Regions from separate parts of the Homo sapiens genome. Here regions 1, 2 and 4 are each linked to region 3. Evidence: fine-mapped expression QTL. A gene starts in region 3. Each other region holds a variant in brackets. All regions are shown on one strand. Distances are from middle to middle. Region 1 holds the start of OR11H4 (olfactory receptor family 11 subfamily H member 4). Region 2 holds the start of LOC124903279 (a long non-coding RNA gene). Region 3 holds the start of TTC5 (tetratricopeptide repeat domain 5). Region 4 overlaps LOC124903279 (a long non-coding RNA gene).

What was found. PIP is the estimated chance that this variant, and not a neighbour inherited with it, causes the effect.
Region 1: its variant is fine-mapped to the expression of TTC5 in whole blood (TOPMed, PIP above 0.99).
Region 2: its variant is fine-mapped to the expression of TTC5 in whole blood (INTERVAL, PIP above 0.99).
Region 4: its variant is fine-mapped to the expression of TTC5 in monocytes (BLUEPRINT, PIP 0.95).

Annotation. Positions count from the first base shown.
Region 1 is chr14:20,233,922-20,242,034 of GRCh38, forward strand. OR11H4 (olfactory receptor family 11 subfamily H member 4) reads left to right here and starts at 5,365. Exons shown (of 2, transcript NM_001004479.2): 1 at 5,365-5,410. The variant A/T (reference allele first, on the strand shown) is at 5,003.
Region 2 is chr14:20,266,742-20,274,854 of GRCh38, forward strand. It overlaps LOC124903279 (a long non-coding RNA gene), which reads right to left and starts at 2,154. Exons shown (of 2, transcript XR_007064057.1): 1 at 1-2,154. The variant G/A (reference allele first, on the strand shown) is at 3,872.
Region 3 is chr14:20,301,200-20,309,312 of GRCh38, forward strand. It overlaps TTC5 (tetratricopeptide repeat domain 5), which reads right to left and starts at 4,752. Exons shown (of 10, transcript NM_138376.3): 1 at 4,688-4,752; 2 at 634-766. The coding sequence starts at 4,738. RefSeq lists an enhancer at 4,658-4,897 and a silencer at 7,678-7,878.
Region 4 is chr14:20,254,731-20,262,843 of GRCh38, forward strand. It overlaps LOC124903279 (a long non-coding RNA gene), which reads right to left. Exons shown (of 2, transcript XR_007064057.1): 1 at 6,883-8,113; 2 at 1,655-1,955. Among named protein-coding and RNA genes, the nearest start is that of OR11H4, 20 kb to the left of the region's middle. The variant T/C (reference allele first, on the strand shown) is at 3,386.

The DNA.
Region 1 (8,113 bases), 67 kb before region 3:
TTGTAGGTCACTCAGGACTTGCTTTATGAATCTTGGTGCTCCTGTATTGGGTGCATATATATTTAGGATAGTTAGCTCTTCTTGTTGAATTGATCCCTTTACCATTATGTAATGGCCTTCTTTGTCTCTTTTGATCTTTGTTGGTTTAAAGTCTGTTTTATCAGAGACTAGGATTGCAACCCCTGCCTTTTTTTGTTTTCCATTTGCTTGGTAGATCTTCCTCCATTCTTTTATTTTGAGCCTATGTGTGACTCTGCACGTGAGATGGGTTTCCTGAATACAGCACACTGATAGGTCTTGACTCTTTATCCAATTTGCCAGTCTGTGTCTTTTAATTGGAGCATTTAGTCCATTGACATTTAAAGTTAACATTGTTATGTGTGAATTTGATCCTGTCATTATGATGTTAGCTGGTTATTTTGCTCGTTAGTTGATGCAGTTTCTTCCTAGTCTCGATGGTCTTTACATTTTGGCATGATTTTGCAGCGGCTGGTACCAGTTGTTCCTTTCCATGTTTAGTGCTTCCTTCAGGAGCTCTTGTAAGGCAGGCCTGGTGGTGACAAAATCTCTCAGCATTTGCTTGTCTGTAAAGTATTTTATTTCTCCTTCACTCATGAAGCTTAGTTTGGCTGGATATGAAATTCTGGGTTGAAAATTATTTTCTTTAAGAATGTTGAATATTGGCCCCAACTCTCTTCTGCTTGTAGGGTTTCTGCCGAGAGATCTGCTGTTAGTCTGATGGGCTTCCCTTTGAGGGTAACCCGACCTTTCTCTCTGGCTGCCCTTAACATTTTTTCCTTCATTTCAACTTTGGTGAATCTGACAATTATGTGTCTTGGGGTTGCTCTTCTCGAGGAGTATCTTTGTGGTGTTCTCTGTATTTCCTGAATCTGAACGTTGGCCTGCCTTGCTAGATTGGGGAAGTTCTCCTGGATAATATCCTGCAGAGTGTTTTCCAACTTGGTTCCATTCTCCCCATCACTTTCAGGTACACCAATCAGACATAGATTTGGTCTTTTCACATAGTCCCATATTTCTTGGAGGCTTTGCTCATTTCTTTTTATTCTTTTTTCTCTAAACTTCCCTTCTCGCTTCATTTCATTCATTTCATCTTCCATCACTGATACCCTTTCTTCCAGTTGATCACATCGGCTCCTGAGGCTTCTGCATTCTTCACGTAGTTCTCGAGCCTTGGTTTTCAGCTCCATCAGCTCCTTTAAGCACTTCTCTGTATTGGTTATTCTAGTTATACATTCTTCTAAATTTTTTTCAAAGGTTTCAACTTCTTTGCCTTTGGTTTGAATGTCCTCCCGTAGCTCAGAGTAATTTGATCATCTGAAGCCTTCTTCTCTCAGCTCGTCAAAGTCATTCTCCATCCAGCTTTGTTCCGTTGCTGGTGAGGAACTGCATTCCTTTGGAGGAGGAGAGGCACTCTGCTTTTTAGAGTTTCCAGTTTTTCCATTCTGTTTTTTCCCCATCTTTGTGGTTTTATCTACTTTTGGTCTTTGATGATGGTGATGTACAGATGGGTTTTTGGTGTGGATGTCCTTTCTGTTTGTTTTCCTTCTAACAGAGAGGAACCTCAGCTGCAGGTCTGTTGGAATACCCTGCCGTGTGAGGTGTCAGTGTGCCCCTGCTGGGAGGTGCCTCCCAGTTAGGCTGCTCAGGGGTCAGGGGTCAGGGGTCAGGGACCCACTTAAAGAGGCAGTCTGCCCGTTCTCAGATCTCCAGCTCCGTGCTGGGAGAGCCACTGCTCTCTTCAAAGCTGTCAGACAGGGACATTTAAGTCTGCCGAGGTTACTGCTGTCTTTTTGTTTGTCTGTGCCCTGCCCCCAGAGGTGGAGCCTACAGAGGCAGGCAGGCCTCCTTGAGCTGTGGTGGGCTCCACCCAGTTCGAGCTTCCCGGCTGTTTTGTTTAGCTAAGCAAGCCTGGGCAATGGCGGGCGCCCCTCCCCCAGCCTCGCTGCCGCCTTGCAGTTTGATCACAGACTGCTGTGCTAGCAATCAGCGAGACACCGTGGGCGTAGGACCCTCCGAGCCAGGTGCGGGATATAATCTCGTGGTGTGCCATTTTTTAAGCCTGTCGGAAAAACGCAGTATTCGGGTGGGAGTGACCCAATTTTCCAGGTGCCGTCCGTCACCCCTTTCTTTGACTTAGGGAACTCCCTGACCCCTTGCGCTTTCCAAGTGAGGCAATGCCTCTCCCTGCTTCGGCTCACGCACGGTGCGCGCACCCACTGACCTGCACCCACTGTCTGGCACTCCCTAGTGAGATGAACCCGGTACCTCAGATGAAAATGCAGAAATGGCCCGTCTTCCGCGTCGCTCACGCTGGGAGCTCTAGACCGGAGCTGTTCCTATTCGGCCATCTTGGCTCCTCAAGCTATATATTTATATATTATATATAAATATATAGTATATATATTTATATATTATATATAAATATATAGTATATATATGAATATATAGTATATATATTATATATAATATATAGTATATATATTTATATATTATATATAAATATATAGTATATATATTATATATAAATATATAGTATATATATTTATATCTTATATATAAACATATAGTATATATATTTATATTATATAAATATATAGTATATATATTTATATATTATATATAAATATATAGTATATATATTTATATATTATATATAAATATATAGTATATATATTTATATCTTATATATAGTATATATATTTATATATTATATATAAATATATAGTATATATATTTATATCTTATATGTACTATATATATTTATATATTATATATACTATATATATTTATATATTATATAGTAAATATATTTATATATAATATATGGTATATATATTATATATTATATATAATATATATACCATATATTATATATAGCATATATAAATATATACCATATGTTACATTTGGCACATATAAAATATATACCATATATTACACATGGCACATATAAAATATATACCATATATTACACGTGGCACATATAAAATATATACCATATATTACACGTGGCACATATAAAATATATACCATATATTACACGTGGCACATATAAAATATATACCATATATTACACGTGGCACATATAAAATATATACCATATATTACACGTGGCACATATAAAATATCTACCATATATTACACGTGGCACATATAAAATATATACGATATATATCACGTGGCACATATAAAATATATACTATATATTTCACGTGGCACATATAAAATATATACTATATATTACATGTGGCACATATAAAATATGTACTATATATTACATGTGGCACATATAAAATATGTACTATATATTACATGTGGCACATATAAAATATGTACTATATATTATATGTGGCACATATAAAATATGTACTATATATTATATGTAGCATATAAAAAATATATACTATATATTATATACCACATATATAAAATATATACTACATATTATATATCGCATATATAAAATATATACTATATATTATACATATACTATATAGTATATATTCATATAGATATAAATATATCTATATATATTTTATATATTTATATTTATATTTATATACATATATTATATATATAATATATTTAAAATATATATATTATCAAATATATATAATATATTATATATAATATATATAAAGTATATAAAGATATATACTTTATAGTATATATCTTTAATATAAATATATATACTTTATAGTATATATCTTTAATATAAATATATATACTATATATACTATACATACTATATAGTATATATAGTATATATACTATTTATACTATATTATATATAGTATATATACTATATATATATATATACTATATATATACTATATATATAATATAGAATATATTATATATAATATAGAATATATTATATATAATATAGAATATATTATATATAATATAGAATATATTATATATAATATAGAATATATTATATATTACATATTATATATATAAATATATTACATATTATATATAATATATTATATATTATATATAATACGTATTATACATAATATATTATATATTATATATAATACATATTATATACATATTATATATATTATATATATTATATATAATATATATTATATATAAATATATACTATGTATATTTATATAGTATATATAATAGATGGTATATATATGCTACATAAATATATACTATATAAATATATAGTATAATTATCTAAATTATATAATTATAATTATATAATTATATAATTCTTAATTTATAATATATAAATTTATATATTTATATATAAATAAATATATAAATTTATATATTTATATATAAATAAATATATAATATATAATTATATATTCTATATAAATATAATATATAATTTATAAATATATAAAAATATAATTATATAAATATATAAATATATATACTATATAAATATATACTATGTATAACATACACTATATAGTATATAAATATATACTATATATAATATATAGTATATAATATTATATATAATATTACATTATATATATTTATTATAAATATATATTATATATATTACATATATTATATAAATTATATATATTTATTATATATTATATATAATCTATATATAGTATATATATTATATATAAATATATATACTATCTATTATATATAAATATATATATACTATCTATTGTATATATTATAGATGAGCCCCAGTGTTGGAAAGAGAACGCACTCCAGGGAAACTTGGGTAAGCCACTGAAACCATATGGGGAGAAACACAGGGCTTTACAGTAATCCCTGAGTGAAAACATAGATGTAATACTGATTCGCATGTTAAACCTCTCAGCAAATTCTGAGAAAAGCCTCTGGAGTCTCCAGGAATGAAGGCAGGGCAATAAACCACATATAATGCCCTCACCTGGAGTTTTCCTCAACAGAGCCAGTGAAGAGGAGATGCTTGATGCTGAGGTTATGCTCAATTCTGCCTCATTTCTGCCGTGCGCACCGCTGTCTCCA[A/T]ACTGAGCCAGAAAAGCCATGATTGTAGGTAAGAAACCACTGCTATGATATGCTACAGAGTCTCTTTGACTTTATAAATCTGATTAGGCACTGTTTCTCTGCAAAGACTCAAAGGAGGCAGTATAATAGTATAGTATAAAAGTTCCATATGTGAATCCAGGACACATATTTATTGGGTAAAAAGTCATGCCCCTCTCTGAGCCTCATTTGTAAAATGAAGTTAGATCATTATACCATTTCTTCTAATTCTATGATTTTATGGTCATTAACAACCATCTTTCTGAAAACAATCTTACTTTCCAGGAATAATCAGGTGGTGTGTTCCTTCTCTCAGGACACCTGGGAAGACAATATACTAAGTGAGGGGCATTCAACAGAAGGCTATTAAATCAAGCTATCACACTTATGGTAGGTGGACTGGTGGGTTGATTGGTTGGTTGGTAGTTTCTTGTACTGGAAAGGAGTACAGTACATGAAAGAGCTGGTTTCGGCCGGGCGCGGTGGCTCATGCCTGTAATCCCACCACTTTGGGAGGCCGAGGCAGTCCGATCACGAGGTCAGGAGATCCAGACCATCCTGGCTAACACGGCGAAACCCCGTCTCTACTAAAAATACAAAAAATTAGCCGGGCGTGATGGCGGGCGCCTATAGTCCCAGCTACTCAGGAGGCTGAGGCAGAAGAATGGCGTGAACCCGGGAGGTGGAGCTTGCAGTGAGCCGAGATCGCGCCACTGCACTCCAGCCTCGGCGACAGAGCGAGACTGTCTCAGAAAAAAAAAAGAAAAAGAAAAAGAAAGAGCTGGTCTCCTAGGATTGTAGCTCAAATAATGATATATCTCAAAAATCAGGAGAAACAGTATGTTTGTGTCATAAAATAATGAAGATTCTATTCTAATTACCTAACTATTCCCAGACAGCGTTTTGGAGACTTTGGAGGGTGGTGTTATATAAAACTTTGTGGAAACAGTTTATTCCGTCAATGCGAAAACTCTGAAATTGATTACTCGGGTCTTTCTATTAAGCTCCCCAGCTTTTGATCATTCCATTACTTATCTACACTTCTCCAAAGGCTTCAGAAAAAACAATGTTGCTGCTAATAAAGCACTTGCAGAGTAGGGTAGTAGAAAAGACGAAGTGTAGTGTAAAGTTGTCAGTGTATAATGGAGAATGTCCTAAACTGTTATTCTCATCAAGCAGGCATTCAGAACAAAGGGCGGGAGGCTCAGATCTCACAATTCTGGTTCCCAATTTAAGTCTGAGCCTGGACTTGTTCTCTGACCTGTGTATAGCAGAGAAAGGGATGTATTTATGCTTCGTAAACAACAATCTGGAAATCACCTATTGAGCACCTTATTCAAGGAAGATGGTAAACAAATGCCTTTTAAATTCAGCATTGATTGGAAAGCTGGACAACTTTAGAACTCAGATGCTCCAAATTTCCCTTTTTATGCATCCTTAAAAACTACCAAAGAACTAGTGATGTTGAGATTCAAATCTTCGTTCCCAAGAATACCTGATCCTTCCTTCAACTTCTGTGTTCTTTGTTGCCTTTCACATTTTTCTTTTACATTTCTGACAAAGTTATGACTGGTGACCTGCAATAAACAAGACAAGAGATCTAAACTTAACAAGAAACTCAATATTGAAACTACCTTCTTTTTTTTTTTTTTTTGAGGTGGAGTCTCGCTCTGTCACCCAGGCTGGAGTGCAATGGTGTGATCTCGGCTCACTGCAACCTCCACCTCCTGAGTTCAAGCAATTCTTCTGCTTGGCCTCCCAAGTAGCTGGGATTACAGGCACGCACCACCACACCCAGCTAATTTTTGTATTTTTAGCAGACAAGGGTTTTCACCATGTTGGCCAAGCTGGTCTCAAACTCCTGACTTCAGCGATCTACCCACTTTGGCCTCTCAAATTGCTGGAACTATAGGCATAAGACATTACGCCCAGCCAAAACTACCACTTTTTTAAGACTTAATCAGCACATTTTAAGTATTAATCAAGTATAAGATTACTGTTGTTTAAACACATTTGTGTATTTTATTTAATTCTTAAATACATAAACTTGTTGCTACTGAAAAGTACATACCTAGTCAAATATTTGAAAATGTCCTTACCTTCCTTTCAGTAAACAAAATTCTAATACATAGGATTGCAGATGAAGCCCCATTTCATCTCAGATTCTTTTAGAAAATCCCTTTGTTTTCACCACCGAAAAAGCTCACTAAATAAACTAAATTTTTGTATAGAAAACATCATTTTCCTTATTTCATCTACATGGTATCTGATTACAAAAAGTAAGATAGTTCCTTTTTGTATAGTATGTGTAAAAAACATAAAAATAAACACTGCCGTTCGTTAGAGATGTTTTTAAAATATTATCATGGAGTTGTATCTCCATGCAGCAGTCAATCTATTTTGTTTTGTTCAAACATCTAAACCAATTTTATTTTTTTCAGTTATCCTCAAAATGTCTTTTCTAACAACTTGTGCTAAATAAGAGAAAATTGATGAACTTGTGCTAGAAAACCCATAATCAACATTGGAAAAACAAATCAAAAGCTGAAAAGGTCTTCTCAAGCATCCAAGGAAAAGAAAGAAAATAAATTTGTCTGGTTCTGCCACTAGTGTCTGGAGAGGTGGCCTGCCCCTCCACACCTGTGGGTATTTCTGGTCTGGTAGGACGAGAGACTGAGAAAAGAAATAAGACACAGAGACAAAGTATAGAGAAACAACAGTGAGCCCAGGGGACCGGTACTCAGCACACCAAGGACCTGCACCGGCACCGGCCTCTGAGTTCCCTCAGTTTTTATTGATTATTATATTCATTATTTCAGCAAAAAGGAATGTAGTAGGAGAGCACGGTGATAATAAGGAGAAGGTCAGCAAAAAACATGTGAGCAGAAGAATCTATGTCATAATTAAGTTCAAGGGAAGGTACTATGCCTGGATGTGCACGTAGGCCAGATATATAGTTCTCTCCACCCAAGTATCTCAGTGAAGTAAAGAATAACAAGGCAGCATTACTGCCAACATGTCTCGCTTCCCACCATAGGGCGGTTTTTCTCCTATCTCAGAATTGAACAAATGTACAATCGGGTTTTATACCTA
Region 2 (8,113 bases), 34 kb before region 3:
TGAAAAAATGCTCATCATCACTGGCCATCAGAGAAATGCAAATCAAAACCACAATGAGATACCATCTCACACCAGTTAGAATGGCAATCATTAAAAAGTCAGGAAACAACAGGTGCTGGAGAGGATGTGGAGAAATAGGAACACTTTTACACTGTTGGTGGGACTGTAAACTAGTTCAACCATTGTGGAAGTCAGTGTGGCAATTCCTCAGGGATCTAGAACTAGAAATACCATTTGACCCAGCCATCCCATTACTGGGTATATACCCAAAGGACTATAAATCATGCTGCTATAAAGACACGTGCACACATACGTTTATTGCGGCACTATTCACAATAGCAAAGACTTGGAACCAACCCAAATGTCCAACAATGATAGACTGGATTAAGAAAATGTGGTACATATACACCATGGAATACTATGCAGCCATAAAAAATGATGAGTTCATGTCCTTTGTAGGGACATGGATGAAATTGGGAATCATCATTCTCAGTAAACTATCGCAATAACAAAAAACCAAACACCACATATTCTCACTCATAGGTGGGAATTGAACAATGGGAACACATGGACACAGGAAGGGAACATCACACTCTGGGGACTGTTGTGGGGTGTGGGGGGGAGGGACAGCATTGGGAGATATACCTAATGCTAGTTGACGGGTTGGTGGGTGCAGCACACCGGCATAGCACATGTATACATATGTAACTAACCTGCACATCGTGCACATGTACCCTAAAACTTAAAGTATAATAATAAATAAATAAATAAATTAGCCAGGCATGGTGGTGCATGCCTGTAATCCCAGCTACTTGGGAGGCCGAGGCAAGAAAATCACTTGAATCTACGAGGTGGAGGTTGCAGTGAGCCAAAATTGTGCCACTGCATTCCAGCCTGCAACAGAGATCCTGTCTCAGAAAGAAAAAGAATACGTATATCTTGACCAAGTAAGGTTTGTACCAATAACACAAATTTGATTCATTGATTGAAAGTTGAGTACTCTTATTCACTGCATTGACAGGTTAAGGAACAGAAAACAATCATTTGCCATGTCAATAAATACAGAAAAAGCATTAGATAGAAAAAGATAAATTAGGTAAAATTTAAAATTTTTGCTAAAAGCTCATAACAAACTTAGTGTCTAAGAGCAATTGTATATAAAGCCACATAACAAACATCTTAATTTGACAAGAAAATGTTGAAAGTATTTTCCTTAAGGACAGAAACAAGACAAAGACGCTTGCTATCACCATTTCTATTCAGCATACTAGAGGTCCTAACTAGTACAGGGGAAAAAAACTAAACAAAAGCTAAAAGGATTGCAGAAGACCCCAAGTGGTCATTATTTATATACAGAAAACCCAAAGGAATCATCAAATTATTAGAATGAAAGAGTTCTAAAAAGGCTATAGCTGCAAAAACTAAATAAAATACTAATTGTATTTCTATTCTGAAGCACAGTTAGAAAATTTAATTCTTAAAAATGATACTACTTACGATAGCAGCATAAACTATAAAGTGGCCAGGAATAAATCCAATAAAAGCCATAAACAAACTTTCTGGAGAAAGTATACTATTATATCAAAAGACTAAACCAGAAAGAAATAGAAATCCTGAACATAACAATTTGAAAAAGTAGTAAAATTGAATCAGTAATAAAAAGCTTCCCAAGAACAACTAAAAATCCCAGAACTAGATGAACTCACAGCTGAATTCTATCTAATGCAGAAAGAATGACTGGTACCACTCCTACTGAAACTGCTCCAAAATATCAAGAAGGAGAAAATCTTCCCTAATTCATTCTATGGAGTCAGTATCCTCTTGATACTAAAGCCAGGTAAGGACACAACTAAAAAAGAAAACTACAGATCAATATCTCTGATGAATATAGATGCAAAAATCCTCAGCAAAATACTAGCAAACCAAATCCAACAGTACATCAAAAAGATGATACATTATGATCAACTGGGTTCTATTGCAGAGATGCAAGGATGGCTCAACATATGTAAATCAATAAATGTGATTCATCACATAGACAGAATTAAAAAACAAAAACCCTACGATCATCTCAACAAATGTGGAAAAGAATTTGATAAAATTCAGCCTCCCTTCATGATAAAAACCCTCAACACACTAGACAGAAGAAACATACCTCAAAATAATAAAGGACATTTTTGCCAATGTGGGGAAAAGAAAGAGAGATCAGATTGTTACTGTGTCTGTGTAGAAAGAAGTAGACATAGGAGACTCCATTTTGTTCTGTACTAAGAAAAATTCTTCAGCCTTGGGATGCTGTTAATCTATAACCTTACCCCCAACCCCGTGCTCTCTGAAACATGTGCTGTGTCCACTCAGGGTTAAATGGATTAAGGGCGGTGCAAGATGTGCTTTGTTAAACAGATGCTTGAAGGCAGCATGCTGGTTAAGAGTCATCACCACTCCCTAATCTCAAGTACCCAGGGACACAAACACTGTGGAAGGCCGCAGGGACCGCTGCCTAGGAAAGCCAGGTATTGTCCAAGGTTTCTCCCCATGTGACAGTCTGAAATATGGCCTCGTGTGAAGGGAAAGACCTGACCGACCCCCAGCCCGACACCCGTAAATGGTCTGTGCTGAGGAGGATTAGTATAAGAGGAAGGAATGCCTCTTTGCAGTTGAGACAAGAGGAAGGCATCTGTCTCCTGCCCCTCCCTGGGCAATGGAATGTCTCGGTATAAAACCCGATTGTATGTTCCATCTACTGAGATAGGGGGAAACTGCCTTAGGGATGGAGGTGGGACATGCAGCAGCAATACTGCTCTGTAAGGCATTGAGATGTTTATGTGTATGCATATCTAAAGCACAGCACTTAATTCTTTACCTTGTCTATGATGCAGAGACCTTTGTTCACGTGTTTATCTGCTGACCTTCTCTCCACTATTATCCTATGACCCTTGACAAATCCCCCTCTCCGAGAAACACCCAAGAATTATCAATAAATACTAAGGGAACTCAGAGGCTGGCGGGATCCTCCGTATGCTGAACGCTGGTCCCCTGGGTCTCCTTATTTCTTTCTCTATACTTTGTCTCTGTGTCTTTTTCTTTTCCAAGTCTCCCGTTCCACCTAATGAGAAACACCCACAGGTGTGGAGGGGCAACCCACCCCTTCATGCCAAACCACAGCCAGCATCATACTGAATGTGGAAAAGTTGAAAGCAATTCACCTAAGAACTTAAGTAAGACAAGGATGCCAACTTCCACCACTTTTATTTAACATAGTATTAGATGTCACAGCCAGAGCAACCAGGCAAAAGAACGAAATAAAAGGCATCTGTGTTAGGCTGTTCTTACATTGCTATAAAGAAATACCTGAGACTAGGTAATTTATAAACAAAAGAGGTTCACTTGGCTCAGAGTTCTGCAGAGTGTCCCAGCATGGCTCCAGCATCTGCTTCTGGCGAAAGCCTCAGAACCTTTACAATCATGGCAGAATGTAAAGCAGAAGCAGACATATTATTGGTGAGAGTGAGAGCAAGAAAGAAGGAGAAGTGTCACACTCTTTAAACAACCAGATTTCATGAGAACTCACTGTCTCAAGGAAAGCACCAAGTTATTCATGAAAGATCTGCACTCATGACCCAAACACTTCCCACCAGGCCCCACCTACAACATTGGCAATTAAATTTCAATATGAGATGTGATTGGGACAAATATGAAAGCTGTATCTTTCCACTCCGGCCCCTCAAATCTAATATCCTTCTCACATTGCAAAATATAATCATCTGCTCCCAATAGTGCCCAAAACTCTTAACTCATTCCAGCATCAAACCCAAAGTTCGAAATCTCAACTGAGACTCATCTCCTTCCACCTATGACCCTGTAAAATCAAAGC[G/A]GGTTATCTAATCCCAAGATACAATGGTAGTACAGGCATTGGGTAAACATTACCATTCCAAAAGGGAGAAATTGGCCAAAAGAAAGGGGTAATAGTTCCCAAACAAGTCTGAAACTCAGCAGAGGAGTCATCAACTCTTAAAGCTCCAAAATAATCTCCTTTGACTCCATGTCCCATATCCAGCCCATACTGATGCAAAAGATTGGCTCCCAAGGTCTTGGGCAGCTCTGCCCCTGTGGCTTTGCAAGGTACAGCCCTCACAGCTGCTCCCACAGGTTGCAGTTGAGTGTCTGTGGCTTTTCCAGAAGCAGGGTGCAAGCTGCTGATGGATCTATCATTTTGGTATCTGGTGGGCAGTGCCCTGGTAGCGACTCTGTGTAGGGGTTCCAACCCTACATTTACCCTCCTCACTACCCTAGTAGAGGTTCTCCATGAGGGCTCCACCTCTGCAGCAGGCTTCTGCCTAGGCACCCAGACTTTCTCATATATCCCCTGAAATCTAGGGGGAAGCTGCCAAGTCTCCTTCACTCTTGCAATCCATATGCTCACAGACTTAACAAAACATGGAGGCCACCAAGGCTTATGGCAGCTTGCACTCTCCAGAGCAACAGCATGAGCAGTACTTGGGGTCCTTTGAGCCAAGGCTGGAGCTGGAGCACCCAGGAAGCAGGGAGCACTGTCACAAAGCTGCACAGGGCAGCAGTACTCTGGGACTGGCCCACGAAACCATTCTTTCTTCCTAGGCCTCTGAACCTGTGGTAGGAGAGGCTGTCTCAGAGATTCCTGAAATGCCTTCAAGGTCTTTTTTCCCCATTGTTTTGGATATTAGCACTTGACTCCCTTTTATCTATGCTGATCTCTCTAGCAAGTGCTTGCTCCACAATCTGCTTGGATTCTTTCTCTGCCATATGTCCAGGCTGCAAAATTTTCAAACTTTCACACTCTGTTTCCCTTTTAAATATAAGTTCCAACTTTAAGTAATTTTGCTCCCACATCTGATCATAGGCTGTTAAAAGCAGCCAGGCCATATCTTAAACAATTGCTGCTTAGAAATGTCATTCACTTCATACCCTAAGTTATCACTCTTAACTTCAAACTTCCACAGATCCCTATGACATGAACATAATACAGCCAAGTTCTTTGCTAGGGTGTAACATGGGTGACCTCTACTCCAGTTCCCAATAAATTCCTTATTTCCATCTGAGACTGATATGGTTTGGCTGTCTTCACCCAAATCTCATCTTGAAGTGTAGTTCCCATAATCCCTACATATTGTGGGAGGGACCAGGTGGAGATAATTAAATCATGGGGGTGGTTTTCCCCATTCTGTTCTCATGATAGTAAGTTTTACAAGATCTGATGGTTTTAATAGGGGCTTCCCCCTTTGCTGGATTCTCATTCTCCTTCCTGCTGCCATGTGAAGAAGGACATGTTTTCTTCCCCTTCTGCCATAATTGTAAGTTTCCTGAGGCTTCCCTAGCCATACAGAACTGTGAGTCAATTAAACCTCCTTCCTTTATAGATTATCCAGTCTCAGATATGTCTTTATTAGCAGCATGAAAACAGACTAATACAGTAAATTGGTACCTGAGAGTGGGGCACTACTGTAAAGATATCCAAAAATGTGGAAGCGAGTTTGGAACTGGGTAACAGGCAGAAGTTGGGACAGTGTGGAGGGTTCAGAAGAAGACAGGAAGATGTGGGAAAGTTTGGAATTGCCTGGAGGCTTGTTGAATGGCTTTGATCAAAATGCTATAGTGATATGGACAATGAAGTCCAGGCTGAAGTGGTCTCAGAAAGAGATGAGGAATTTGTTGGGAACTGGAGTAAAAGTGACTCTTGCTATGTTTTAGCAAAGAGACTGGCAGCATTTTGCCCCTGCCCTAGAGATCTGTGGAACTTTGAACTTGAGAGAGATGATTTAGGGCATCTGGTGGAAGGAATTTCCAAGAAGCAAAGCATTCAAAAGGTAACTCGGGTGCTGTTAAAAGCATTCAGTTTTATGTATTCATGAAGATATGGTTTGGAATTGGAACTTACGTTTAAAAGGGAAGCAGAGCATAAAAGTTCAGAAAATTTGCAGCCTGACAATGCAATAAAAAAGAAAAACCCACTTTCTGAGGAGAAATTCAAGCTGGCTACAGAAATATGCATAAGTAACGAGGAGCCAAATGTTAATCACCAAGGAAACGGGGAAAATGTCTCCAGGGCATGTAAGAGGTCTTCACTGCAGGCTCTCCCATCACAGGCTCAGAGGACTAGAAGAAAAAAACGGTTTTGTGGGCCAGGCCTAGGGCCTTGATGCTATGTGCAGTCTAGGGACTTGGTGCCGTGTGTCTTGGCCATGGCTACACGGGGCTAATGTGGAGCTCAGGCCATTGCTTCAGAGGGTGCAAGCCCCAAGTCTTGGTGGCATACATATGGTGTTGGGCCTGGGGGTGCACAGAAGTCAAGAATTGAGGTTTGGGAACCTCCACCTAGATTTCAGAAGATGTATGGAAATGCCTGGATGTCCAGGTAGAAGTTTGCTGCAGGGGTGGAGTTCTCAGGGAAAACCTTTGCTAGGGCAGTGCAGAAGGGAAATGTGGGGCCAGAGACCCCACACAGGGTCCCCCCAGGACACTCCCTAATGAAGCTGTGTGGAGAGGGCCACAGTCCTCCAGATCCCAGAATGGCAGATCCACCAGCAGCTTGCACACTCAATGCCAGCCCATGAAAGCAGCCAGGAGGGGGGCTTTACCCTGCAAAACCACAGGGGCAGACCTTCCCAAGGCTGTGGGAGCCCACCTCTTGCATCACCCTGACCTGAATATGAGACATGAAGTCAAAGGAGATTATTTTGGAACTTTAAGGTTTAATGACTGCCCTATTGGATTTCAGACTTGCATGGGGCCTGTAACCCCTTTGTTTTGGCCAACTTCTCCCACTTGGAATGGGTGTATTTACTCAATGCCTGTACCCACATTCTATCTAGGAAGTAACTAACTTCCTTTTGATTTTACAGGCTCATAGGCAAAAGGGACTTACTCGTGTTGTCTCAGATGACACTTTGGACTCGGACTTTTGAGTTAACTCTGAAATGGGTTAAGACTTTGGGGGACTATTGGAAGGGCATGATTCGGTTTTGAAATGTGAGGACATGAGATTTAGGAGGGGTGAGGGGTGGAATGATACAGTTTGGCTATGTCCTCACCTAACTCTCATCTTGAATTTTAGTTCCCACGTGTCATGGGAGGAACCTGGAGATAATTGAATCATGGGGGCAGTTTCCCCCATCCTGTTCTCATAATAGTGAGTTAGTGCTCACAAGGTCTCATGGTTGTATAAGGAGCTTCCCCCTTTGCTGAATTCTCATTCTCCTTCCTGCCACCATGTGATGAAGGACGTGTTTGCTTCCCCTTCCACCATGATTGTAAGTTTCGGAGGCCTCCCCAGCCATGCTGAATGGTGAGTCAATTAAACCTCTTTTTTTTACAAATTACCCAGTCTTGGGTACCAGTATTTTGGTCACAACCATTGAACCAGTCTCTGAGAAGTTCCAAACTTTCCCTTATCTTCCTGTCTTCTGAGCCCTCTAAACTCTTCCAACCTCCGCCCATTACCCAGTTGAAAGTTGCTTCCACATTTTCAGGTATCTTTATAGCGATGCCCCACTCCTGATACCAGTTTTCTGTTAGGCCATTCTTGCATTGCTATAAATACCTGAAACTGGGTAATTTATAAAGAAAAGAGGTATAATTGGTTCAGAGTTCTGAAGGCTGTATCAGCATGGCTCCAGCACCTGCTTCTGGTGAAGTCTTCAGAAACCTTACAATCATGGCAGAAAGTGAAGTGGGAGCAGTCACATCACATGGCAAGAGCAGGAACAGAGAGTGGTGGGGAGGTGCCACACACTTTCAAACAGTCAGATTTCACAAGAACTCACTATCTCAAGGACAGCACCAAGCCATCCAGAAGGGATCCACCCCCATGACACAAGCACCTCCCACCAGGCCCCACCTCTATCATTGAGGATTACATTTCAATATGAGACTTGGAAGGAACAAACATCCAAACTATATCAGCATCCAAATTGGAAAACAAGAAGTCAAACTATTGGGTTGGTGCAAAAGTAATTGCAATTTTTGCCATTTGCCACAATTACTTTTGCACCAACACAATATCTCTGTTCACTGATGATATAATCTTATACCTACAAAACCCTAAATACTTTTATTAAAAAACTCTTAGATTTGATGAACA
Region 3 (8,113 bases):
CAGGACAAATAGTTATCGTTAAAACAAAACAGAGAGAGAGAAGAAAAGACCCTCCAGGTTAGAAAATGATATAAACAAAGACACAGAATCAGAAGTACATGTGGCCATGTTCATGGGAGAATAGACAGTTCAACCTGGATGAAACAGAAAGTTCCTCTACAAGTAATTAGTCAGAGATAAGGTTAGAAAACAGAGTAAAACAATGGACACTTAAATACCAGGTTAAGGGGGTTAGACTTCAGCTAGTCAATAGCAGGAATCTTTAAAGATACCTGAGCAAAAAGGCAGATGAGAGGATAAGGTTAAATGCATGAAGTAATGATTTAGAAAGATAGCCATGGCCATGGTATTATATAAGTGGATTTGAAAGTAAAAGAAATTAGAGGCAGAAAGTCAGATTACTGCAATAGTTCAAGTAAGTATGCTCTTTCATTTCATGCCATTTGCTATAATCAAATTTTAGGAAAAGTGGCTTAGGGAATGAAAGGTTGCACAGGGGCCCTGAGAAGTAGTATTACGTTGTACTACCCTATAGCAGTAACAGATAGGATACCAAAGAGTCAATGAGGAGGGAGCAAAGGTCAATCACATTTCACTGAAGGATGGGGGTTGTACAATCTCTAGGGCTCATACCCACTACTTCTTCCATCTGCTGTAGGGTTTTCTCCATCTCCTTCTGCACATCCTGTTGCTTCCTCCCAGCATCCTCAACACTATGTGTCTCGAAATAGCAGTCTCGAAATGAGTAGAGCTGATCCACGAGTTCCTAAAAAGTATGACAATGGAACCATTAAGTGGAAAGATCACTGGATAGGGAAACTTGAAATTGGCTAGCCATACCAGCTCTTGGTCTAGAAATACCAATTCTCTTTCTCACCTATGAATGGCACAATAGGCAGGTGGACAGGTTTACTAAAATGCCACAAATCATGAGGAAAAGCAGCCAGTACCCCAGGCCAGCTCTCATGGTCCCATGTTGTCCCATGCCAGTGTCTCTATTGTGATGACCATTTTCTCTCCCTGCCTCAGCAGGGCTTCTAATATGACTAAGCACTTCACATACCACAGTCATGAGGAGGGAAACACTGCAACTTAAGATAAACCAAAAGTTAGTAAGATCATTCTATATGGTCCTGGTCCTCAAAGAATAACACTTTGAAATTTACCCTTAAAGTTGGACTTCTCAACTAAAACCATTTTATCCCTGATTTTTCATATGCTGAGATCTGAAAATACAACACAACCTTTGTGAATATAATAAACATGTTAGAGAGTCATTGTTTTCCACCACAAACATACCAATTTGAACTTGGTAACTTTGGTATCTTTGCAGCATTTTGTTCTTTTAAATGCTTATTGTGGTTTTGTTTAGTTTGATTTTTTTGTCAAGTCATCTTCTGGCTGCCTTGGATTTTTTACAAATAAATATTCTCTTTCCTCTTAAATGCCTCTGAGTCTTCCTGTCACACCAGGCAAAGCTTTTCTACTACAGGTCAAGCATCCCTAATGCAAAAATCTGAAATCCTCCAAAATCTGAAACTTTTGAAACGCTGACACCACAAGTAGAAAATTCCACACCTGACACACAGTCAAAATGCGGTCAAAACGTTGTTTCAGGCACAAAATTATTAAAAATATTGTATCAAATTACTTTCAGCCTATGTGTATAAAGTGTAAATGAAACAATTTTTTTTTTTTCTTTTTTAAAAGACAGGGTCACCAGGCGTGGTGGCTCATGCCTGTAATCCTAGCACTTTGGTAGTCCAAGGCAGACGGATCATGAAGAGATCGAAACCATCCTGGCCATCATGGTGAAACCCGGTCTCTACTAAAAATACAAAAATTAGCCAGGCATGGTGGCGCACACCTGTAGTCCCACCTACTCGGGAGGCTGAGGCAGGAGAATCGCTTGAACCTGGGAGGCAGAGGTTGCAGTGAGCCAAGATCATGCCACTGCCCTCCAGCCTGGCAACAGAGCAAGACTCCGTCTCAAAAAAAAAAAAAAAAGAGTCTCGTAGGTTGCCCAGGCTGGTCTCAAACTCCTGATTTCAAGCAATGCTCCCACCTCAGCCTCCCAAAGTGCTGGGACTACAGGCATAAGCCACCAAGTTTCATATTTAGATTTGGGTCCCATCCCCAAGTTATCTCATTATGTATATGCAGATATTCCAAAATTCAAAAAAATCCAAAATCCAAAAAACTTCGAGTCCTAAGCATTTCAGATAACAGATATCCTATTCTTTCCTGAAACTAAATAGATAGCAGCAGAAAGATATAATCACTTCCCTTCGAGTGTAATCAACAATCTTCACAACACATCCTGAATTCATCCACCTGTCTCCATCCCACTATGACCATTCCTGGATTACATCAGCTTCATTACTTGCCTGGACTGCAAGAGCTTCTTAACCAGTCATCTTGTTTCTGTTCTCTCCCATTCTCCTCACTGTAGTGGGAGTGATCTTATAAAAAACGTACATCATATCACAAACCTTCAAATAGTTTCCCATTGCAGACAGAATAAAATCCAAGTCCTTATCATGACCTAGAAGACTGTATGAGCTGACCTACCACCACCCATCCTGACACAAACTTCACCTCTCACCATTCTCTCTCCTACAATACTCAAGCCAGAGTTGCCTTCATGCAGTTTCTCAAACCCATCAAGCTCAGCCCACCTGGAAGACCTTATGCCTGGACACTTTCTCCAGATCTCTGCATAACTTATTCCTCATCATCATTTAGATCTTAGGTCAAATATCAATTCCAGAAAGGTTTTCCCTAATTACTCAACCCAAATGAATCCATTCCTTCTCTCCTCTACTGTTATATCATACTCTTATTTTTCTTCATACTTATTTAAAATCATGTGGCCTATCATTAATTGTCTATTGTCTGCCTCCACCACTGAAATGTAAGCTCCAGGATGGAAAGGCCTTTAATCTGTTTTGTTTCGAGCTACACCTGAGCACCAGAACGGGACTTGGGACATGATAGGCTCTAATTCACTACACTTGATTGAATTAACTAACTAACTATCCCTGTTCTAACAAATACATATGTGCTATACTTAATTTAAAATCCTATCCAGAATGAAGGGAACAGACTAGCACCCTCTGCAAATTTTATTGTATTATATCCAAGACCCAGCCTGCAGAGACTCTGATTTTAACAGTTTAGCAGAACTCAAAATTCTACATTTTTAACAGGCACCCCAGATGACTGTAATGAAACTGTCTGTAAAACACACTTTGAGAAATATCCATTTATACACTCTTTTTACACTAAAATGTCTTTAACAATGAAATCAAAGTTTACCACCATCTCCATGAACAGCAACACCATTATCTAATCCTTTTCCTCTTCTCTACTTCACTCCTTTATTCCATTCCTGCACCGACCCCACCCCAAGATAACGGAAGTATCCTCTCCCAAGCTGCTTAGGACATTTACCACAAATGAACCTAGGAAAAGACAATTCTCATAAAAAATTACAACCAATTTCCTTTTGTCCTGCAATCAACATGGCTGCAAATTAAGAGTTTTAGAGAAGGGCTTATTGATTGGTTTTAGTTGTTAAACCAAACATTCAAGAAGTTGTTTGGTTTTATTGTTTGGTTTTGTTTTCCTCTGGACTGAATGTTTTTAGAAACTTATTTTTTCATGGCAAAATCAATACATGTAAGTTGTTAAAATTCAAATAGATACATGTAAAAAAAAGAAAGTACAAAATTACCCCAAAGAACCTCAGTGATAACCACTGATTTGTATACCTTTTCAGATTTTTTTCTGTGCATATACAAACATATATACACAAATAATGTTTCTAATATAGAACCAGAATTGAGAATCTCTGATTTCAGCCAGTCACAGTTAGGGAATAAAATGAAGTTAATCCAAATCAGCTGGAACACTCTAAAAAGTGTTACTATTTTAATGTACCCAAGAACAAAGAAATTTCACCAGTATTTAAATTTGTGCGTTAAACACCTTTAGGCAAGTTACAAGCCTGTCATAGTTCTAATATTTAAGTTACAGGCTGCCTTAGAACGAAGAACTGAGTTCCTGAGGTGTAAGGAAAATCATGGGTTCTTAAAGGCAAAGAGCCAAGCAACTAGTTAACGCCTCCCTACCAAGTCCAAAAGACTAGTCTTACCTGTGGACTATGTGGAGTCTGGACCCCTCTGCATCAGACCCCAAAGTGGAATTACACAGGTTGAAAGAAATCAAAACTGAAATCCTAAGGGGAGTAACCAGGACACTTGCAGTGCAGGTCATTAGCGTGATTGTTGCCAAATTCAAAGCAGAAAGGTGTTAAATGGCTTTTGTAGGGATCAAAACAACATGTGACAGTAGTTCATGCAGATCTGCCACACACATGTATATGCTATTCGCTATGGATGAATCGAGAAAACAACGTCCTCTCTAAAAATGTACATGAACAGTTAGGAGCAACAAATCTTCTTCCATACAGGACTGAAATTAACCGCAGTCAGGTCGGCAGCAGGAGGTTCCAACGAGGCTCCCTGGCTGGCTGCGGCTGCACCCTCGAGGGTTGTTATAGTAACCACACAGACGCACGCAGCTTCGCGTGTGTGCCGAGGAATTCACGGGCAGTACATAAACTGGACTCCCTGCTTCATTCGGAGTAACAAAAACACATACAGAATTTAATCTACGGCCCCACCTGCAATTTCTGCAAGATCGGCTTGACTTCTTCCTCTTCATCAGCCATCATCTCCCGGCCACTCCACCCCCAACTTTATAACCACAGAGACGCACGCCCTCTCTCACCGCGGAACCACAGCGACATCTGGCGTTCTGGAGGCTTTTCTGCCCCAGAAGGGCTTTGCTTCAAACCGACTTAACCATTTATTTCCACAGAGATGCTCTACAATCACTTGTGAGTTCATAAACTTCTTTCTTTCCCAGATCCTGGAAACAAAATGTCCTCAGCTTAATTTCTATATTCTTGTTTCATGTCTTCCTACTTATTTATACTAAGATTATAATACTCCATAAAGAAGAGAGTTTAAGAAGTGCACACCTGTGTTGTTTGAAATTTCGAAAGCCATGTAGTACAATAGCTACTTTACTCAATCTTTTCCAAACTTTGCAGTAATTTTCTATGTATGATTAATTTTATCATTTTAATGCACTATCTTAATAAATACTACACTTGGGATGGCTCATAAAAACCACCATGCTCTACACTAACAATGCCTCCATATTTATAGACAACATCCAGAAGGATATATAAGAAAGGATGACTGTCTCTGCAGAGGGAAACACAGAAACTGGGGAACTGTGGGTGAGCGAAGAAAATTTTCACTGCCTGCCCTTTTGAATTTTCTTGCCATCTATATGTATCACCTATTCAAATATAAACATTTTTAAATAAAAAATTATTTGCTTCTACATAGTCTCTGGAAAGAGACACAAGACACTGGCAAGACTATCGCTTACAAAGAGCAGAAGTGAGTGGCTGGAGCAAAAATGAGTGACCAGGGAACTGGGGTAGACTTTTCACTCTATGCCTTTTTTGTAACTTTAAAGTTTGTACCTTGTGAATATATTAAACTTCTGAATAAATCTTTTAAAGTGTCATGTAATATTCCTGGCAGTTTTGCTTTACTTTTTTAGTTTTAATTACAGCTTCAAGCTGATTCTGTGAAACTAACAAAGAAGTAAAACGTTCAAGGCAGAAATCATGAATATACATAAAATCATTTCCTCAAATCATTTTCCAACATAAAGGAAATAGTTTGTATTGTAACCTATAAAATCTATGTCGTTAGCTGTAAAATAGGGAGGGATGTTTTAAAAATTTTTTTTTGAGATGGAGTCTCACTGTGTAGCCCAGGCTGGAGTGCAATGGCGCCATCTCGGCTCACTGCAACCTCGGCCTCCCAGGTTCAAGCGATTCTCCCGCCTCAGCCTCCCGAGTAGCTGGGGCTACAGGTGCATACCACCACGCCCGGCTAATTTTTTGTATTTTTAGTAGAGACGGGATTTCACCGTGTTAGCCAGGATGGTCTCGATCTCCTGACCTCATGATTCACCCGCCTCAGCTTCCCAAAGTGCTAGGATTACAGGCGTGAGCCACCACACCCGGCCCTAAAACTTTAAAATTTTTCATCCTCTTTCTCAGACATTTTAACTTTGGTGCACACGAGGCTGGGCACGGTGGCTCACACCTGTAATCCCAGCACTTTGGGAGGCCAAGGCGGGCAGATCACTTGAGGTCAGTTCAAGACAAGCCTGGCCAATGTGGTAAAACCCCATCTCTACTAAAGATACAAAAATTAGCCAGGTGTGGTGGCATGCACCTGTAATCCCAGCTACTTGGGAGGCCAAGACAGGAGAACCACTTGAACCCAGGAGGCAGAGGTTGCAGTGAGCCAAGATGCTGCCACTGCACTCCAGCCTGGGCAACACAGCAAGACTCCATCTCAAAAAAACAGTAATAAATAATTTTGGTGCACATTAAGAATAATTTTTAAGAGATTTTATACTCTATATTCCTAGTGAAGGAAACACTACTTGCTTTTCAATTATGTAAAGCAGGGGTATTTAATTGCCTTTCTACAATGACTAAATATATCTTCAAATGATTTCAGTATAATTTTTATTACCTAAAAAACAATGGGATTTGACATTTAGGGTAATTCCATTGTTAACACATCTTAAACCATTAAGAATCAATCCTAAAATTTAAGAGTTAGAAAAGGCTGTAAGGATAACTTAATTCAGTCCTTCATTTTACAGATACAGAGACTAAGTCCAAGAAAGTTCAAACTAAGTAGAAACCAGAACCCAGATCTTCTGCCTCTCCAGCCAGTATGCTTTCAAATCTTTCCTCTAACAGGACATAAAGTTACTGAGAATGTCCTTCAAATTTCTATCATGGCTCTACATTTTAAATAAATAAATGCATAAACAATTTAATTCCCATAATAATAGTCAGAAATACTCACTAAATAAAGGAAAACAATAAATAAATCTTTTATTTTAATACAATCTCGAGATCAATAACACATTGGTAAACTTTCTGCAGAAGTGCATTCCTAAATAAGTAAACCCAAGGCAATAGTTGACAAAAAGGTAAAGAAGTAGCTTTATTTTAAAATACAGTCTTCCTTTGGTATCTTTGGGGGATTGGTTCCAGGAACCCTCATGGATACCAAAATCCTTGGATGTTCATGTCACTTTTATAAAATGGCATGGTATTTGCATATAACCTACAGATTCTCCCAAATACTTTAAATCACCTCTAAATTATTTATAATACCTACAATGTAAATGCTATCCAAATAGTTGTTATATAGTATTGGTTTTTAATTTGTATTTTTTTATATTATTTTTTCTCAAATATTTTTGATATATGGTTGGCTGAATCTGCAGAAGCAGAACCTATGGATACAGAGCACCGACTGTAAATGCCAAAAAAATTAACTTTAAAAAATAACTTCATCAACGTGAGTTATTTTTAAATACAAATAGGGACTGAACATACATGCATCAAATTGTACTCTCGTTCACTGACATAAGCACACCTCCAAACAATACGAAGGTAAATACATAAATATATACAAATAAATACACACACCCAAATAACAAGCTACACATCACCCACCATTTTCCAAGACCAAAATTTTCACATAAACATACTGGCAAATACAGCAAAATATCAGTGTACATTAACATACTTACATATACAGATATGCATAAATACCAGAATTCAAAGCAACATGTAGCATATAACACAGGTACTTAAGGCATAAACACCACAGCTCAGTGAGAAACAGCACAGGGAGAAAGAGTTATCTATTGAAACAAATACTATTGTGACCTTCTCACACTAGGGATGAAAATTCAGCAGTTCACAATGGAATTGAGACTAATAAAATGCTTATGCTTTAAATAATAGAAACAAAGAAACCAGACTCTAAACCACTCCCCACTGCCAATGAGTTTGTTATGTTGATAATGTGAAAACAACTTCAGAGACTTAAAAGCACAGAGAAGCTGGGGAGTCCTATCTAGAAAAAAGATTTGCTACCCTGCCCCTGCCCCTGCCTCTGCCTCTGCCTCTCCCTCTCCCTCTCCCCTC
Region 4 (8,113 bases), 46 kb before region 3:
ATGCTGCAACAAATTACCACCAATTTAGTGGCTTAAAACAACAAACACTTATTCATTATCCTGTAGTTCTGGAAGTCAGAAGTCCAGAATCAGCCTCACTAAAGTAAAGACGTCCAGGTTGCCTCTTGATGCTCTGGAGAATCTGTTTTCTTTGACTTTGCCAGCTTCTAGAGCCCACCTACATTCTTTAGCTAATGGCCTGTTCCTCCATCTTCAAATCTAGCAGCATAGGATCTTCTAATCTTAGTATCTCTCTTCATATCTCTCTCTCTCTCTCTTTCTCTCTCTCCCTCCTTCCATCCCTCCCTCCCTCCCCCCTTTAGTTATCACATTGCCTTCTTTGTCTTCAACCCTCCTGCCTCTCTCTAATAAGGACTCCTGTAATGACATTGACCCACCCAGATAATTCAGGATAAACTCCCACATTACAAGATCTTTAGCCTAATAATATATGTGAACTCTCTTTTGCCATGTGAAGTAACACATCTAAAAGTTACAGAAATTATAATATAGACATCTTGGGATGGCCATCTTTCAGCAGCCTACCAGCCCATCAAAGAGAGACATTACAGTAAAGCAAGAAAACAAAGCAAGAATAAACTCTGTGCTACTGGTTAGAGTCAGAGACACCCTTATAAATTCATATTTAGTGTAATATATACACAGATATAGAAATAAGTATGGACACGTGTATGTACATGCATAATATATGTATAAAGACATATATTATGTAGTTTTGTCTGCCAAAAGTGCCTAGAAGCAATAAGCACTCAGCACCCAGATCTTGGTTTTAAAATACCATTCTCCAATAAAAGGTAGTAGGGCTCCTTCAAGAAATGACTGTTTCTAGGGCTGGGACAAGGAAAATACAGAATGAACCCAGCGAATTTTGTAGTACCAAAAAGTACTCAAAACTCAAAAGGATAGAAACACATGAAGGTGATACAAGAGCCAATCTAAAAGAGCTCTCAAGATCAGCTGGCACAATTTGAGCAAGAAAATAATAGGGTAGTATTGGATTATAACCCAAACTATGAAATAAATATATGTAAGTACACACTGGTGTTAATAAATGACTGAATAAATAAACAGAAAAGGGGAGACAAATTTTCCTTACAGATGACTTCCAAATAATGTATGTATATACTCCCCCAGGAGGTGGAGCTTAATCCCCTTTCCCCAAAGGTGGCCTAGACTTAGTGACTTACTTCCTAAGAATATTAGGGAAAAGGGAAAATAGTAACTTTAGAGTGGCGAAACATGGCAAACACTACATTGACCAAGTGATGAAGACTAACATCACCAGTGATGTCATGTGATATTGTTTACCTCTGATATGATGCTGATATGGTTTGGATTTGTGTCCCCACCCACATCTCATGTCGCATTGTAATCCCCAGTGTTGGAGGTGGGGCCTGGTGGGAGTTGGTAAGATCATGAAGGCAGAATTCTCCCTTTGGTGCTGTTCTCATGATAAGAGTTTTTTATGAGATCTGGTTGTTGAAAAGTGTATAGCACCTCTGCCCTCTCTCTCTCTCTCTTCCTTCTGCTCCAACCATCTAAAACATGCCTGCTTCTCCTTCGCTTTCCGCCAAAGTTTCCTGAAGCCTCCCCAGAAGCCATTGTGCTTCCTGTGAAGCCTGCAAGACCATGAGCCAATTAAACCTCTTTTATTTATAAATTATGCAGTCCCAGGTATTTCTTTATAGCAGTGCGAAAATTGACTAATACAGATGTATTGAGAAAGGCACTTCATCTGCATGGTCTGTTTCCCCAAAATCCATTACTACAGTCTAATCATGCAGAAAAACATCAAACCCTGAATGGGGATCATTCTACACAATACTCCTCTGGACTGTCAAGGTCATAAAAAAAACAAGAAAAGACAGAAACTTTCACAGACTCGGATGGAGAGACATGACATCTAAATGAAATGTTGTACACTGGATCAGATCCTGAAAGAAAGAAAGGGCATTAATGGAAAATTGGTGAAATCCAAATAAAATCTGGAATTTAGTTACTAACAACATGTTAGTTAAGTAGTTAGCTTCTTAATGTACCATGGAGATGGAAATAGAAGTTGTTAACAGTGGGGGAAACTGGTAAGGAATATGTGGAGATTCTCTATATTATCTTTGAAATTTTTCTGTAAATATAAAATTATTCCAAAATAAAAGTTTATTTTTTAAAAAAATGGCTTACCTGATATTTCTGATCACCTGAATGATCTCATTCAAAAATACCAAGGCCTACATTAATTATATTAATGTACTGAAAATGTATATAGATTCAAAACAAAAGACAACTTTTAAAAAGTAAGCTTAAAGTGGTTTACTAGGCTGGGTGTGGTGGTTCACACCTGTAATCCCAACACTTTGGGAGGCCAAGGTGTACGGATCACTTGAGCTCAAGAGTTCAAAACCAGCCTGGCCAGATGGCAAAACCCCATCTCTACAAAAACAAACAAACAAAAAATTAGCTGGGCGTGGTGGCACACATCTGCAGTCCCAGCTACTCAAGAGGCACAAAAGTGGCTTGAGCCCAGGAGCCAGAGGTCACAGTGAGTAGAGACCATGCCACTGCACTCCAACCTGGGCGACAGACCGAGAGACTCTGTTTCAAAAAAACTAACAAACAAAAAACAGTGGTTCACTAGTAATGTTTAGTCAGGTTTATTATTTGAATCCTGAAGATTTATTAAGACTAGTAGAGCAATACTGGTATATGCTTGAGGGAAATCTTAGCCATTTTTTTATACTTGATATAAGAAAGTTTGATTCACTATTAATGTACTGTTAAAAGTTTCCTCACAAGACCCTTTAACATTACATTTGTCAATGACAGGAAAAGAAGAGCTATGAGACTTAAGGCATAATCACACCCTAAGCACAATCCATAAAAACTGATTTATCCAAGCTCTCATTAATAGAAAGATGTCCAACTATTATTATAGTAAAATATAAAAATATAGAAAAGGCAATATATACCTTCTACCACTTGCTACCATGTACATTGCAAAGAAAACTTCTCATCACTGGTGATTATCTAGAAGTTGAAGAGATCATTACTTGAAGTTTCTATCAGGAATTGTATGAACCAAACCAAGCAAAAAAACTAGTATTAAAAGTTACATATTTAAAATTTATGCCCAGGCACAGTGGCTCATGCCTGTAATCCCAGCACTTTTGGAGGGCGAGGGGGGTGAATCAATTGAGGTCATGAGTTCAAGAGCAGCCTGGCAATATATGAAACCCCGTCTCTACTAAAAATACAAAAATTAGCCAGGCATGGTGGTGTGCACCTATAGTCCCAGGTACTTGGGAGGCTGAGGCAGGAGCATCGCTTGAACCTGGGAGGCAGAGGTTGCAGTGAGCCAAGATCGTTA[T/C]CACTGCACTCCAGCCTGGGCCACAGAGCAAAACTCCATCTAAATAAATAAATAAATAAATAAACTTACATATATATAAACAAGCTGAAAGTTTTTATTGAAAATTTGGTCCAAGTAGATGTGGTCAGTGAAAAGAAAAAAAAAGAAAAAAAGGAAAATATTTTATTTACAAATTTTATAGAAATTTAAAATTTAATACATTTGAATTTTTGTTATGAATTTAATCATATTGTTATATTTTTCTTCTAATAAAAAAATAAGACATTTTTCAACAAAATCTATACAGATGCCTCCAAATCCCTTCTAGTTTACTCCACTATGTCAAACATCATTTTCTTAATGTACCATTTTCTAAGCACTGCCTTAAAGAACAGCACGTCTGTTCAGTTGATGAATCTCTATAATATCCTGGTGAAATTAAGTTACTCTAATTCAGTTTCTCCTCCAAGAATTGTTCTTAAAGATGAATATATTTAGAGCTTTAAAACTTTATGAACTCGGCTGGGCACAGTGGCTCATGCCTGTAATCCCAGTACTTTGGGAGGTCAAGGTGGGTGGATCATTTGAGGTCAGGAGTTCAAGACCAGCTTGGCCAACATGGTGAGACCACATCTCTACTAAAAATGCAAAAATTAGCCAGGCATGGTGGTGCACGCCTGTAATCCCAGCTATTTAGGAGGCTGAGGTAGGAGAATAACTTGAACCCAGGAGGTGGAGGTTGCAGGGAGCCAAGATTGTGCCACTGCACTCCAGTCTGGGCGACAGAGTGAGACTCTGTCTTAAAAAATAAATAAATAAAGGAAAACTTTATGAACACTCTTGAGAGGTTGATCCTATCCAATACAACTTGTCTGTATTATTCTAATTCTGTGCTCTCCTCAGTTCTCTAAACATGCCATCCCTGGGCAAGCATTTTTTTTTTTTTTTTTTTTTTTTGAGACAGGGTTTCTCTCTGTCACCCAGGCTGGAGTGCAGTGGTGTGATCATTGCTCACTACAGCCTCCAACTCTTAGGCTCATGCAATCCTTCCACTTTAGCTTCCCAAGTAACTGGGATTTCAGGCACACACCACAATGCCCAGCTAATTTTTTTTTTGTATTTTTTCATAGAGACAGGGTCTCCTTATGTTGCCCAGGCTAGTCTTAAACTCCTGAGCTCAAGCGATCCTCCCACCTCAGCCTCCCAAAGTGCTGGGATTACAGGTGTGAGCCACCATGTCCAGCCTTCTATTTTTCATAATAGTATTTACTACAACCACCAACTCAATTTACCCCTTGGTTTAATAAGATCTTCTCATATTTTTTAGAATAAAATTTGCCATCATTCTGAGGTTTGACTTTGGCTGCTTACTTTTTCCTAGGGTCTTGAAAGATAATATTAAGAAAACTACCACACTGGTTATGTTCTAACAGTATAACTAGAAATCCAAAGAAGTGGTTTACTAAAAGGCTAGATTAACACAGTTTTATCCTCAATTATATATTTTTCTATAAAACAGGAAAGTATAAACATCAAATACATGAAAAAACTGCATTGAAAAATTAAATCTAAACACTCAAGAAGAATTAGGCACTGTATTCACTAATCTAAACAGAATTTAATCTTTCTTGCATTATATTTTCATGGGTTTAAATAAGAAAGCAATTATTTTCACTTTCCTACTTTGACATAATAACCCCACAAAACAGCCTGGCATAAAAGTACTGACTTGGTGGCAAGAGACCCAGACTTAAGCCTAGGCTTACCACTTACCAGCTGTATGACCTTATTCATCTTCAAACCCTTGTATGGCTATATCCAATACTAGAGAAGGTGTCCCATAAACACTTATGACTTTAGGAAGTAAAGTTTTCCTCTTTGCTTGCCTGTGCTACAGCAACAGGCAAATAAATAAAAGGAAGGATATAGTTCTCCCTCCCAATAGTTCAACCATCTGGCAGGGCAAACAGAAAATGACCACACCAGAAAAGGAGTACAAAGAGAAGCAAAACTGGAGAAAATGAAAAGGATAGGGGGCTTATCCCCTCACTGGGATTCCATATATCCTGGGAAGCATTGCTTTTTCCGTATCCACACTGGCCAACTATGTACTCTCCCATTCAGTGGGACCATGCTCTAAAATCCCATCACCCTGGATCTATTTCTATATTTATCTGCTGAGATTCTGGTGTAACCTCCTCTACAGCCATCCTGCCCTGAGCAAAGATAAACAGGACCATGAAGCTTTTTCTGTTTGTTTGTTTGTTTATCCTATCAATATAAATATGTAAATGCATGAAAAAAATGTGAGAATCTAATCTTATAAATCTAAAGTAAGCAGGTATAGAAAAATATGCGTTCAGAGAATTGTAATCAACAACAGAATAATGTTTATTCATTAAATATTTATTGTGTACTATAAATTGACACTACACTAGAATTAGGCACACATTTTAGAAAGATATATTTTCTATCTAGAAGACACCACAGTATCGTAGGAGATCTTTATAATTTACAAATCACTTATACATTACATAATAAAAATGTATACATACGATTGCTTTATCCAGAACACAGTTCCCAATAAACACTGATGAAACTATGTATAGACTGAGATTTCAGTGTCTTTCTTGGTTTTTTAAGCAAGTTTATCTATGGGCTAAAAAATACCCTATCATCCAGTAAAAAGGTTACAATTCAAACCTCAACAAGTGTTTTCCAACCGGACCTTAACTGTGGCCTGGCCAGAAAGTGTTAGTAATAAAGCACTCAAAGTCAAACCTACTGCATTGCTTGTCCAAGAACAGACTAAACTGCGTATCAAGAAAATTTCCTTTAATACTATCCATTTGTCAAAACAAAGGTTACAGGCCAGGCACAGTGGCTCACACTTATAATCACAGCACTTTGGGAGATTGAGGCAGGAGGATCACTTGAATCCAAGAGTTTGAGACCAGCCTGGTTAACATAGTAAGACCTCATCTCTACTAATAATTTTTTTTTTTTTTTTTGAGATGGAGTCTCGTTCTGCCACCCAGGCTGGAGTGCAGTGGTGCGATCTCGGCTCACTGCAAGCTCCGCCTCCCGGGTTCACGCCATTCTCCTGCCTCAGCCTCCCCAGTAGCTGGGACTACAGGTGCCCACCACCAAGCCCGGTTAATTTTTTTTTTGTATTTTAGTAGAGACGGGGTTTCACCGTGTTAGCCAGGATGGTCGCGATCTCCTGACCTCATGATCCGCCTGCCTCGGCCTCCCAAAGTGCTGGGATTACAGGTGTGAGCCACTGCACCCGGCCTCTACTAAGAATTTTTTTTAAATTAGCCAGGCTTGGTGGCTAATGTCCCAGCTATGTGGGAGACTGAGGTAGGAGGATTGCTTAAGACCACGAGTTTATGGGTGCAGTGAGCTATGATCATTCCACTGAACTCTAACCTGAATAACAGAGCGAGACCCTGTTCCCCCAACCCCCAAAAAAGAGGTTACACAAATATGCTTGGGTATGCCATAGATACACTTACCCTCTATTGTAGCTTTAGTATCATTCTAAAATTATTTTTAAATGTCCATTTTGAAAGGTAATCCATGGAGTAAGGAGTCAACCTGAAAAGGTACATACTCTGATTCCAATTTTATGACATTCTGAAAAAGGCAAAAGTATAGAAACAGTAAAAAGATAGTGGTTTCTAGCAAGGAAGCCCTGGGAGGCATAAGAAAAAAAAATTTTTAATTAAAAAATGAAAAAAGATAGTGGTTTCCAGGGGTGAGGGAGGAGGGGAGATAAGGACACACAGGTAGAACACATAGGATTGTACAGCAATGAAACGATTCTGTATGATAGTTTAATAAATACATGTCAGTATACATTTGTCAAAACCCATAAAATGTACAACACTAAGAGTGAACTCCAATATAAACCATGGACTTGGAGTGATAAGGATGTGTCAATGTAGGCTCATGAATTATAGGAAGTGTACCACTCTGGGATGGGACATTGATAATGGGGAAGGTTGGGCATAAGGTTGGTGAAGAGGTATATAGAAACCCTCTGTACTTTCTATTCAATATTGCTGTGAACCTGAAACTGCTTTAAAAGACAAAGCCTATTTTTAAAATAACTTTTTTAAATGTAACCCAATAATAATATTGGCCAAAGCTGCACAACTAGGTTTACTTTCCTCTGGGCAGTGACAAACAGAAGCAGACAAGGTAAGTTTTCCACAAGGCCTTTTGCTAATAGAGAAGCAGTATGTGGACCAATATGTTGAGGCTCACATTCCTCAAATGATATGCTCTTTCATCTTCTCTTTTCTCCTATCATTTGCCTCCCCCACTGTGGACACATGAAACAGATACCTAATCTTTTCCCCTCTCTGCCACCATGAATAAAAAGATTCAAGCTGAACACAATAGTTGGCAAAGTCTAGAAGATGCTGGCATTATTAAAACTGTCTCTGCAAAGGCAATGCCCAAAGGAACCCCATTCTCCCAGGCCTAATCCAAAGGCAAAGTTGTTTTAACAGATTAGAAAAGAAAGTTGAAGGAGCAGAGTCACAACAGAACCTAGGTCCCTGAGTGCCAGTTTCGGGCTCTCTGCAGCAGCTCTGCCATGGTTGATTAGCAGGAGTTGGAGTCCCCTGAGAGCCAATTAGAGGAGGAAGTCAGGGTGGGGGAGGGAGGAGTGATTCCATCAACTCCCCATTAAAAGTGAGTGGATCCCACAGCACAGAGAGACAGTGACTCAAACTGTTG